2 separate regions of the Homo sapiens genome follow, and region 2 is linked to region 1. Evidence: fine-mapped expression QTL. A gene starts in region 1. The other region holds a variant in brackets. All regions are shown on one strand. Distances are between the middles of the regions.

Evidence for each region. PIP is the estimated chance that this variant, and not a neighbour inherited with it, causes the effect. A credible set is the group of variants that fine-mapping cannot tell apart.
Region 2: its variant is the best candidate, but not a certain one, in a credible set for the expression of GATB in lymphoblastoid cells (GEUVADIS, PIP 0.64).

Annotation. Positions count from the first base shown.
Region 1 is chr4:151,759,138-151,763,529 of GRCh38, forward strand. GATB (glutamyl-tRNA amidotransferase subunit B) reads right to left here and starts at 1,870. Exons shown (of 13, transcript NM_004564.3): 1 at 1,670-1,870. The coding sequence starts at 1,845. RefSeq lists an enhancer at 1,586-1,865.
Region 2 is chr4:151,671,679-151,676,070 of GRCh38, forward strand. GATB (glutamyl-tRNA amidotransferase subunit B) reads right to left here. Exons shown (of 13, transcript NM_004564.3): 12 at 1,084-1,218. It overlaps LOC107986197 (a long non-coding RNA gene), which reads left to right. Exons shown (of 2, transcript XR_001741447.3): 1 at 1-4,392. Among named protein-coding and RNA genes, the nearest start is that of GATB, 87 kb to the right of the region's middle. RefSeq lists an enhancer at 869-1,668. The variant A/G (reference allele first, on the strand shown) is at 2,543.

The DNA of each region.
Region 1 (4,392 bases):
TTACAACATGGCATCAGGAGGCTGATGATATAAACATGAAGGCTATAGAGAAAGGAACAATTTGGCGTCTTAAAACAATTTAGAAATGGGTATCAGGTGACAACTGCTTGGCTGACTTCAGTGAAAAGCGGCATTTAACAAATTAACTGTAACTTATCAAGTAATCACTCAGTAAATGATGAAAGCTGATCTTTCCCACATTATCTAGAATTAACATAAATGGCAACATTCTACTACTAGAGAAATAATGATAAATAGTTCCACGTCTCTTATTTAAAAAGGAAATTCTCAACCATGTTTTGGTTTGCATGTATAATAACCAGAGAGACACAGATACAATAAATCACCACTAAATGATACTCTTAAAAAAATTTTGCAAAACTCCACCACACTAAACCATCTGATGCGGCATATTTTTGGTCCCCCAAATCACTTTCAATTCCTGAGACCTAATTTCAGGTTACTTTTTTAATGCTTATTTGCTATCAAATCTAAGAAGCTGTTAAATGCTATAATAATCTCTCTTATCTGGTCAGTCCTACTCTGTTGGGTCTGTACATAGGCCTCTCCAGGTCCTTATAAATGTGCTTATTCCCTATGAAATCCATGTATGTTCCTATCCTGCTCTTCTCCCAAGTAATTTTGTGTATATACATATATATATATATACATATTTTACATCGTTTTGTTTTGTTTCAATCATTTCAACATATAAAGTTCTATATCTGAAGTACTGCAAGAATAAGTCCTTCTTTTTAAAGTTTGGAAACACAGCCCATAAGGGAGGGGAATTAAAGTAGGAACTCATTAGAAATTCTGCATGCAGTAAAGCACCATTCAAAGTATTTTTGCATTTCCATTACATGAGAGAAAAAATGTACTTTCCATTCACAAGGAAACAATCTAATTCACGAAAAGAATACAAAACTGAATACTTCTTTCTGGACAATTTCCCTCTGTTCCTCCAACTGAAAGTAAAAATAATGCCAACTAGTCTCAAAGAATAAACAAAATATTAGAAACTTGCCATATGTTTCTGTATTTAAAGAGAAACTATTTAATTCTTACATAATGAAGCATAAACAGCTGTTCAGGGGATATCTGGCCAAATAAGCAAAACTCTCCATATAACCAGGGGGAGTATCTCTTCTTTTGGCTGCGTCCTCCTAGGTCTAGTCACACATATTCCAACATAAAACGCCTGCACAGATAGCTAGTGTTTTCTGACTAATGACAATAACCCACCACTACCAAGAGCTTGTAGGTAAAGGCTCCCTTTCTACCTTTAGAACGCTGCCAGCCCATACTAGCGCTAAATAAAATCAGCTAAATATGATCCCGCTTCTCGTGTCACCGTCCCCACTGCTAGTGCTATTAGTAAGATGACCGAATCCACTCTTCTGTCTGTGCACCCTTCAAGAAAATATTTGCTATTTTACACTCGCGAATTCCCCAACTACATCTATTTGAAAACAGTGGTTTATATATGGGGGCGGAGTTGATAGAAAGTCTGTTTGTGCTTTTATTTAGGTTTCGGGGCTCCAGGTTATAACTCAACGCCCTCCCGTCAGCCAAAACGTCTAGAAGCTGGGCCGTAATTGCCATTATTTCCCCAGTCCTGCAGTTCCACCTCACAGTTAGGTGGGCAGAAATGTATGAAACAGAATACCCTTTCCTCGTCTTCTGGGCCGTGTGGAGGGGCTGCTGAGCCACTGAGCTCTCTCCCCTAATCTGGTTGGATGTGGACCCAGTCGGAGCCCCTCTTCGGTGGCAAGAACCACCGTCAACCCGGGCGAAAGCCCAACGTCTTCCACGGCAGCCCCAGCGCAGCATGGGCGCCGCCATTGTAACTCCAGGGTCTTGGTCAGGTGACTCAGCCTCACTATGCCGCGAGGCTCCCTGGGAAGCGTAGTTCTGGAAATGCATTAAAAACGCCATAGGCTCGGACCGGAAGACTACTATTCCCGGCGAGCATTGTGATTCGAAGCCTGCCGGAACCCCGCGGAGAGGGGAGGGAAGGAGAAATAGAGGAGAGGGTGGGAGGGTTTCTGGGTGGGGAGGTGTGACTCCTCCTAGCGGGGAGTTGGAGAGGTTTGTGGCTGTGAGCGTGTGTATAAGTTAGAGTGTGAGCGCTTGATGCTTGGTGCTAAAGCGTGGCCGGGATTTTATAACCCAGTTAACCTTGCAAGGGGAAGTAAATGACCTTGACAGCTCAGCAGAGACTTCCTCAGCCCCCAAACCCAATCCGTTATATTCTCTGTCTACTCTCCTGCTTCACTCAGCAATTTGTGCGTTAATGCAACAAATACTTATTTGCATGCCTACCGTAATGCCAGGCTCAGTTCTCTTAGGCACTGTAGTTACTGCAGAGATCAAGACAGTTATGGCCCGCATGTTCATGGAGCTTACATTCTAAAGAAGGGAGACATACAGAAGTTAACAAAAATAAGATACTTCCATATAGGTAGTAAGTGCTATGTTTAAGCAGAGGTAATTGGAGACAAACAGCCCTAGATTGAATGTTCATGTACATTTTAACCTCCTTTTTATTATTGGCCAGTATCAGAAACACACTCCTTATATGCTAGGAGCAGATACCATCGTCCCAGCGGACTTCCTTCATTTTCCTGTGTCAAAACTAATACCCCTTGTTAAAACTGCCACCGATTTCTTGTGTTTGAACACAGTCTAGAATAGTCATTTAGCCACTCTCTATTTCATCACCCGACTTTGATTGTCCTCGTAGTGCTTTTGACTGCCTGATGTTTATCTTCTATTTCCACAAATTCCTCGTCTGTCTTATTCACTACAGTACAAAGTAGGTTCCTTAAAAATATTTGTTGAATAAAGTAGTGCAGTGTGGAGAATGCATTTGACAAAGGATGGAGTGGATGCCCTTTGGAGCAGTAATTGTTTAGGGGAGAGATGATGAGTTAGGGTGGTGGCAGAGCCAAAGAGAAATGGATCTGTTTGAGATAGATATAGGAAGTAAAATTGAAGGACTCTGATGGATTGGATATGATGGTGGAAGGCTAGGAGAAACAAATAACTCCTGGATTTCTGGTTTGCACAACTGGCTGATGAAGTTATCCACCGAGATAAGGAAACCAGAAAAGGAACAGGTTTGCAAAGAAAACATATGAGTTTGGTTGCCTTGGAGACATTCAAGAGGAGAAATCAAGTAGACATCAGTGATGCCTAATTCTGAGTATAGAGCAGGGCAAGGGGAAAAGCTGCATATTTTGTATACTTCACATTGATAGATTTTCAGTTATTGATCAATAATCCATTGATTAGTTGGCTGTAACCTTTGATCTTTTCCTTTAATACACTTCAATTGCATATCCATATGGAAGAAAGAAACTTTAGTTACTGTCCTTAAAATTGTCATCATTTATTTTTTCCATCTTTTCTACTTTTTCATCCACTATCACTGTTCTAAATTGCCACACCAGAAGTATCAGTCATTTGACCAAGGATGAAAATGACAAAAATGACAGGGACTGGAAGGGAGTGGTGGAGACTTGTTCCAAAATTTCTCTCTAATTATTGCCCTTTATTTAAGGTTCAGATGATTCTCTAGATCCTTTACTAGAGTCTTCCCTCTGAGTTTCCATGTTTTCCACCTTTACTCTAGGTAAGCTAGCTTTCTTTTACTTATTTAGCTCCTCAGGTTTTTCTGGCCCAGACTAGGGGTCAGGAGAGTTGCCTCTGAGCACAAAATGGCTTCACTTTTGTTAGGACAACAGAGGAGAATGGAATCTTGTATCTCTAGCTAAAAAGAGAGGGGGACACTTGTTACCTCATCGCTGGTAATCAGCATCCTTAAAAGGCGATTCACTCCATCAAATGGAAGATTGGGAATGTTTTGAAAACCACTGTAAGGGAGAGCAACACATTTAATGAAAATCCTAATCTTACGGGTAAAACGCGCTATAAGGGAAGCTCATCTTTGTTTCTGAAGCGGTATTATTCAGTAATAGGCTATCGCCTCAAAGGCCCCACCCCACCACTAGAGGAGATAAAAATCCTACGCATGTAAGTGTATTTGCTTCCTTTCACGAACGGAAACCGGCCAGTTTCCTGCATCTTGTCTCTATCTAATCATTGCCCTTTCAAAAATCCTATAGAACTAATCGTGGAAATAGAGACTTGTCAATAACCATCTCTTTGGCTGTCCTCTCCCTCAAGACTATTTGTCATTTCCCGAAATGCCTGTAGTTTTCCTTGTGAAAACAGGAGCACTGTTTTCTGAGTGCTCCCCCTGCCTTGCTCCTTAGCTGGTCATACTCCCACCAAACCGCCTTCTGTGGGACCATTTCTAGCCTTCCTGCTGCATGCCAAATCTGATATCTGTCAGAACTATTGCTGATAGACAGCTCTCCAGCTGCG
Region 2 (4,392 bases), 87 kb before region 1:
CTGATTCTCAGTGATGTTCAGCTGAAATGTGTGGCTTTCCTTCTCCCCCTGCTCCCCACCAAGAAGATTCCTTTATCAGAAAGCAGATCTACACACTGGCCGAGTCTTCCAGAGCGCTGGGTCGGGGGGAGTGTGCTGTGTGGGCAGGGGGAGTGAGGAAGCCAGGAGGTGCTGAATTCCTATCAGATAGCCACTGACTCTTAGGGCCACCACGTGACCTCCTGCTCTGCAGCGTCTCCAAGGGCAATGACATGAGGATCTGCACTCAAGTGCCACAGAACAAGCCTGAAACTACTGGCACGTCTTTATCAGTCACCACAGATGAGGCAGGAAGACGAGGCTGTGGAGGCCCAGTGCAGGCTCATTTTCCTTATCGAGAGCTCTTTACAGAGCTGTGAGTGTCCCCGGCAAGCTGATGGGTGGGTGGGTATTATTCTGAAAAAGATGCCGACAATTTTTTTCCCCACTGAAAAAATATCTCTAGACAATATGATTAGACTTGGGGAGGGAGGGATGCCACTCGTTTTAGCTTTTATGTCTTGTGCTGTGCTAAGAACACAAAATGACCTGGTTTTCAGTCATGCTCCTGTCAGGGATTTTCTCCACAATTTATGAATACTTTTCCCTTCTGCCTTTCTTCCCACCTCTTAGAAGCATGAAGCTGAAGTTCCTGTACTCTCCCTGCTCTGCCGGCACACCTGCTGGTTCTTTACTGGGAGGTCCTTAGGAAGTAGCGCTAACCACAACAGATTCGAAATGCCAACCCTGGGAGAGGGCGACACACCTGGGAGGTCACAGCTTGGATTTCGTGAGCTTGCTGACACCCTTTTAAACTACACCTCCATGGAGAGTAAACTCCAGGGGTGGCATCCTTCTTATAGGAAAAGAAGTTGTGTTTTTCCAATATCCACCTATTTCATCTCTTCTGACCTTAACTAAAAAGATGACAGTGAGGGAATTATTGATGAAACTGGGTCAGCCATTCTTAGGAAGAGCCTCTGGGCTGCCACAGGGAGCGATGGCGAGGCTCTTGGGCATGTCCTGGGGCTGGCTCTGGCCCTCTCCCCTGCCCGAGATAGTCACCACTTGAGGATGGGCCTCCATCACAGAGTGGCAGAGCTGCTCCAGTGCCCCCTGGTCCTGCATCAGTTCAAGCTGCTTTTCTGAAACAATCTGCCCTGGAGTCTTGCCTTCCCTCTTCCACAGTTCCTCAAACACCTATGGACCAGAGAAGGGAGAGGAAAGAGAAATGAGAAGTCAGCTCTTCTGCCAGCTCCATTTGCAGTGCTGTGCTGTGTGGAGCTGGGGTGGGAATGAGCAGATTCAATTAAGTCCCCACTGCCTGGGCCTGGCCCAAAGGGAAAGGGCACCTGGCTGCCCTGCCAGAGCGTTGGCTCTCCTGAGGCATCCCTGAGTGCAGGGCTGGGGAACAAGGCCAGCTAGGTGGAGTGAATGCACCTGGGGTCTCCTCCTGAGGCTGAAGTCTCCCTCAGCATAAGGTGTGAGAGGACTCGGGCCAGCCAGATGCCCTCGTGCCCAGAGGGATGGTGAGTCCTGCCCGGCTGACTCCACATGGCGGGGGGGGGCCGCGGGAGGCGTGGAGGTGCCCATCACTCATGGGCGCCTGCTGACGGGAGTCGGCGGGCCACTGATGGATCTGTCTCATGGCCGCCGAATTAATTGAGGTGACATTTTGGTGAAGGATGGGGCCACACAGCCTGCAGGAGGTAACCACGGTACTAAATAAAGTCCAGAAACAGCATGCTGGGAAAGATGACTTTAGGGAGGCAGGAAAGTAGCCCCGTAATGAAGATACAAAATGGCAAACAACTGAAAACATAAATTAGAATCCACAGGGGCCCCCTGGCCTACCACATTCATCTCCTACAGGTAGAGCCGGACCCAAATCAGACTAGGATAATGAACGCTAATGTTTGGGGCATTTTTTTTTTACTTAAAAAATGACAACAACAAATCCCCAAATTCATCAAACCTGAGAAAAAGGAAACCATTTTCAAGGAAGGCTATTTCCTAGGGTAGCTGTTTTCCTCATTTCTCTTGTCTTCTAGCGAAAGCCAGAATTGGGAGCCGGGAGGAGGGCTTCCTCTGTTGGTCTCCCACCGGTGCCACCTCCGTCCAGTCCACAGTCATGACTGAACACCCAACTTTCCCTGTTACCTTGGTGGCCGAGAACGGGCCAACCAGGAGCCATTCCTCCTGGAAAAACAGAGCTCTTCCATAATTAGCACGAACAGCAAAGCAAATAAAAGGGAGATGCTCTGAGTCTCAGCAGGGCTCAAAGTCTTCCCCAGTCTGATTCAAAAACAAACCACAAATACTTATCACTGCTGGGACAGGCACTGCGCCTTCAGCCTGGTGCCTCAGAACGTGCGCTGTGACTGTGGCCAAGGAGGTGTGCTTGGCAGGTCCTGGGTAAGCTCCCTACAGGGCACCCCTCTGCCGCTGCCCGACTGCTCAGGAAAAGCCTGGCCCTACTCTTAGAAAAATACAGAATGCACGTGCCTCCAACTCAATTCAGCAG[A/G]TATGTACGTGGCCTGACAATGAGGAAACCATTGGGAGAAAGGGGGCACAGAAGCGGGAAGAAACTTCCTCACTCTCAACATGCTTATCAGTGGAGTGCTGCCAGCAGAAGCACTGGGGACCTGGATGGCGTTCCATGGAGCTGCCCTGTAAGTCGGAGGAGTCCATCTGCCCCCTTTCTCTGACACGTTTATTTTTTGAACTAGGACTTAAATTTTAAAAATCATTTTCTAATAATAAAAGTTAATACACATTCACTGCAGAAAATATAAGGAAATACAGGAGAGATCAAAAGAGATCACCGGAATTCCCATTTTCTCAAGAAAACCAATGTTAATATTTTGGTGTTTTTTCTTCCCATCTTTTTCTTTCTGTTTTGTAACATACTTGGGATCATAACGTATATTCAGTTTGTGTCCTGCTTTCTTTCATTTAGCACAGAAGTACTTTCTTAATAAAAAGATCTAGCTAGTATCCATCAGATGTATTTATCATAATTTATCCCCTCCTCGTAGATATCTAGACTTTGACCAGTGTTGATTTTGTTCATCTGCACAGACTCCCAAAAAAGCTCCTAGCTGAAAACCTGGCTCAAAACAGAAACCACCTGTAAGGACTTGCTCGTGAAAAATCTACGCAGCAGTTCCCTCCAGGAAAACCAGGCGGACGAGCAGCCTGTGCCTGGAAGTAGGCGGGGCCCCTCCTGGGTCTGCGTCTGCAGACACAGACCAGGGAGCGATTTCTCAGCGCCTGTGGTAGCTGCTGCGGTGGGAAGCACACGGCAGACCCTGAGCAGGCTGGCCAGTGAGCCAGCCTCTTTCTGACGGGACCCACAGCTCGAATGTTGGCTGGATTTGCCTGGGCCAAAATAAGCGGAAGAGTGGCAGAGTGCTTGGGGATCACTTCCAATCACACCATTCAGAAGGAGAAGCAGTGCACCTCTAGGACAGATGCCTTCAAACGAAGAGGCTGGCTGCTCCCCGAGAAGGAGGGCCAGGCGGGGTGGTACCAAGCAGTGCCGCTAGAGAAACATCATTCAGCAGCCTCCTGGAACACATGGGAGCCCGGTGGCTGAAATGTCCTTTCCTCCCAGAGTTAGAATACATAATGTTAGTTAACTCCACAAATTAGTGCAGTGGCCATGACAGTCGAGGCCCCCAGTCCCCAGTCCCCTAGGCTTATACAACAGACGCCGGTTGTCCCATCCTTTGCTCAATCCTATTTAAGACGAGGATTGTGCACTCCTGGCTGGAGTCCAGGAGGGTGGGAGCCACTGGGTGGTAGTGGAGCGGCCCTGTCTCCAGGCCAGACTCTCCTGCTCCTGGCCCTCTTGACGCTCACAGAGTGGCCTCTGTGGCTGCCGAGCCCTGTGCTGCAGCATAAATCCTCAGCTTTTGTCTGTGTTTAATCCCACCCTGAGAAGTGATATCCAAGTGCAACTGTTTCCAGCCAGGAGCGCAGCTCCCAGGCCCTGCTGCTGCCTACCCAAGACAAACAGATGTAACAAGGAATTTCTAGCACAGTGCTGGTCCTCTGTGTTAATAAATGGCCGACCAGGAGTACTGGGTAATGCAAGCTGGGAACTCCCCATCACACACAGACACTGGAGCCGGCTCTGACACATGGGGCAGAGACTCGGCCTTTGGTTCCCTGAGGACTGAATTTACACACCCTCTTAGTTGCCACCCAACTGTTTCTAGCTAAAGCTATTTTTGAAGTATCCTGAAGGAAAGCACACAAGACTCTAGCCTCTCCCTGCCTGTCCTGGGTTTCCAAGGTCAGGATATGGTGGAAAGACCTGTTCAAGGGACATGGCATGGAGGGAGCTGTCACAGTTACAGAGAAGGGAGC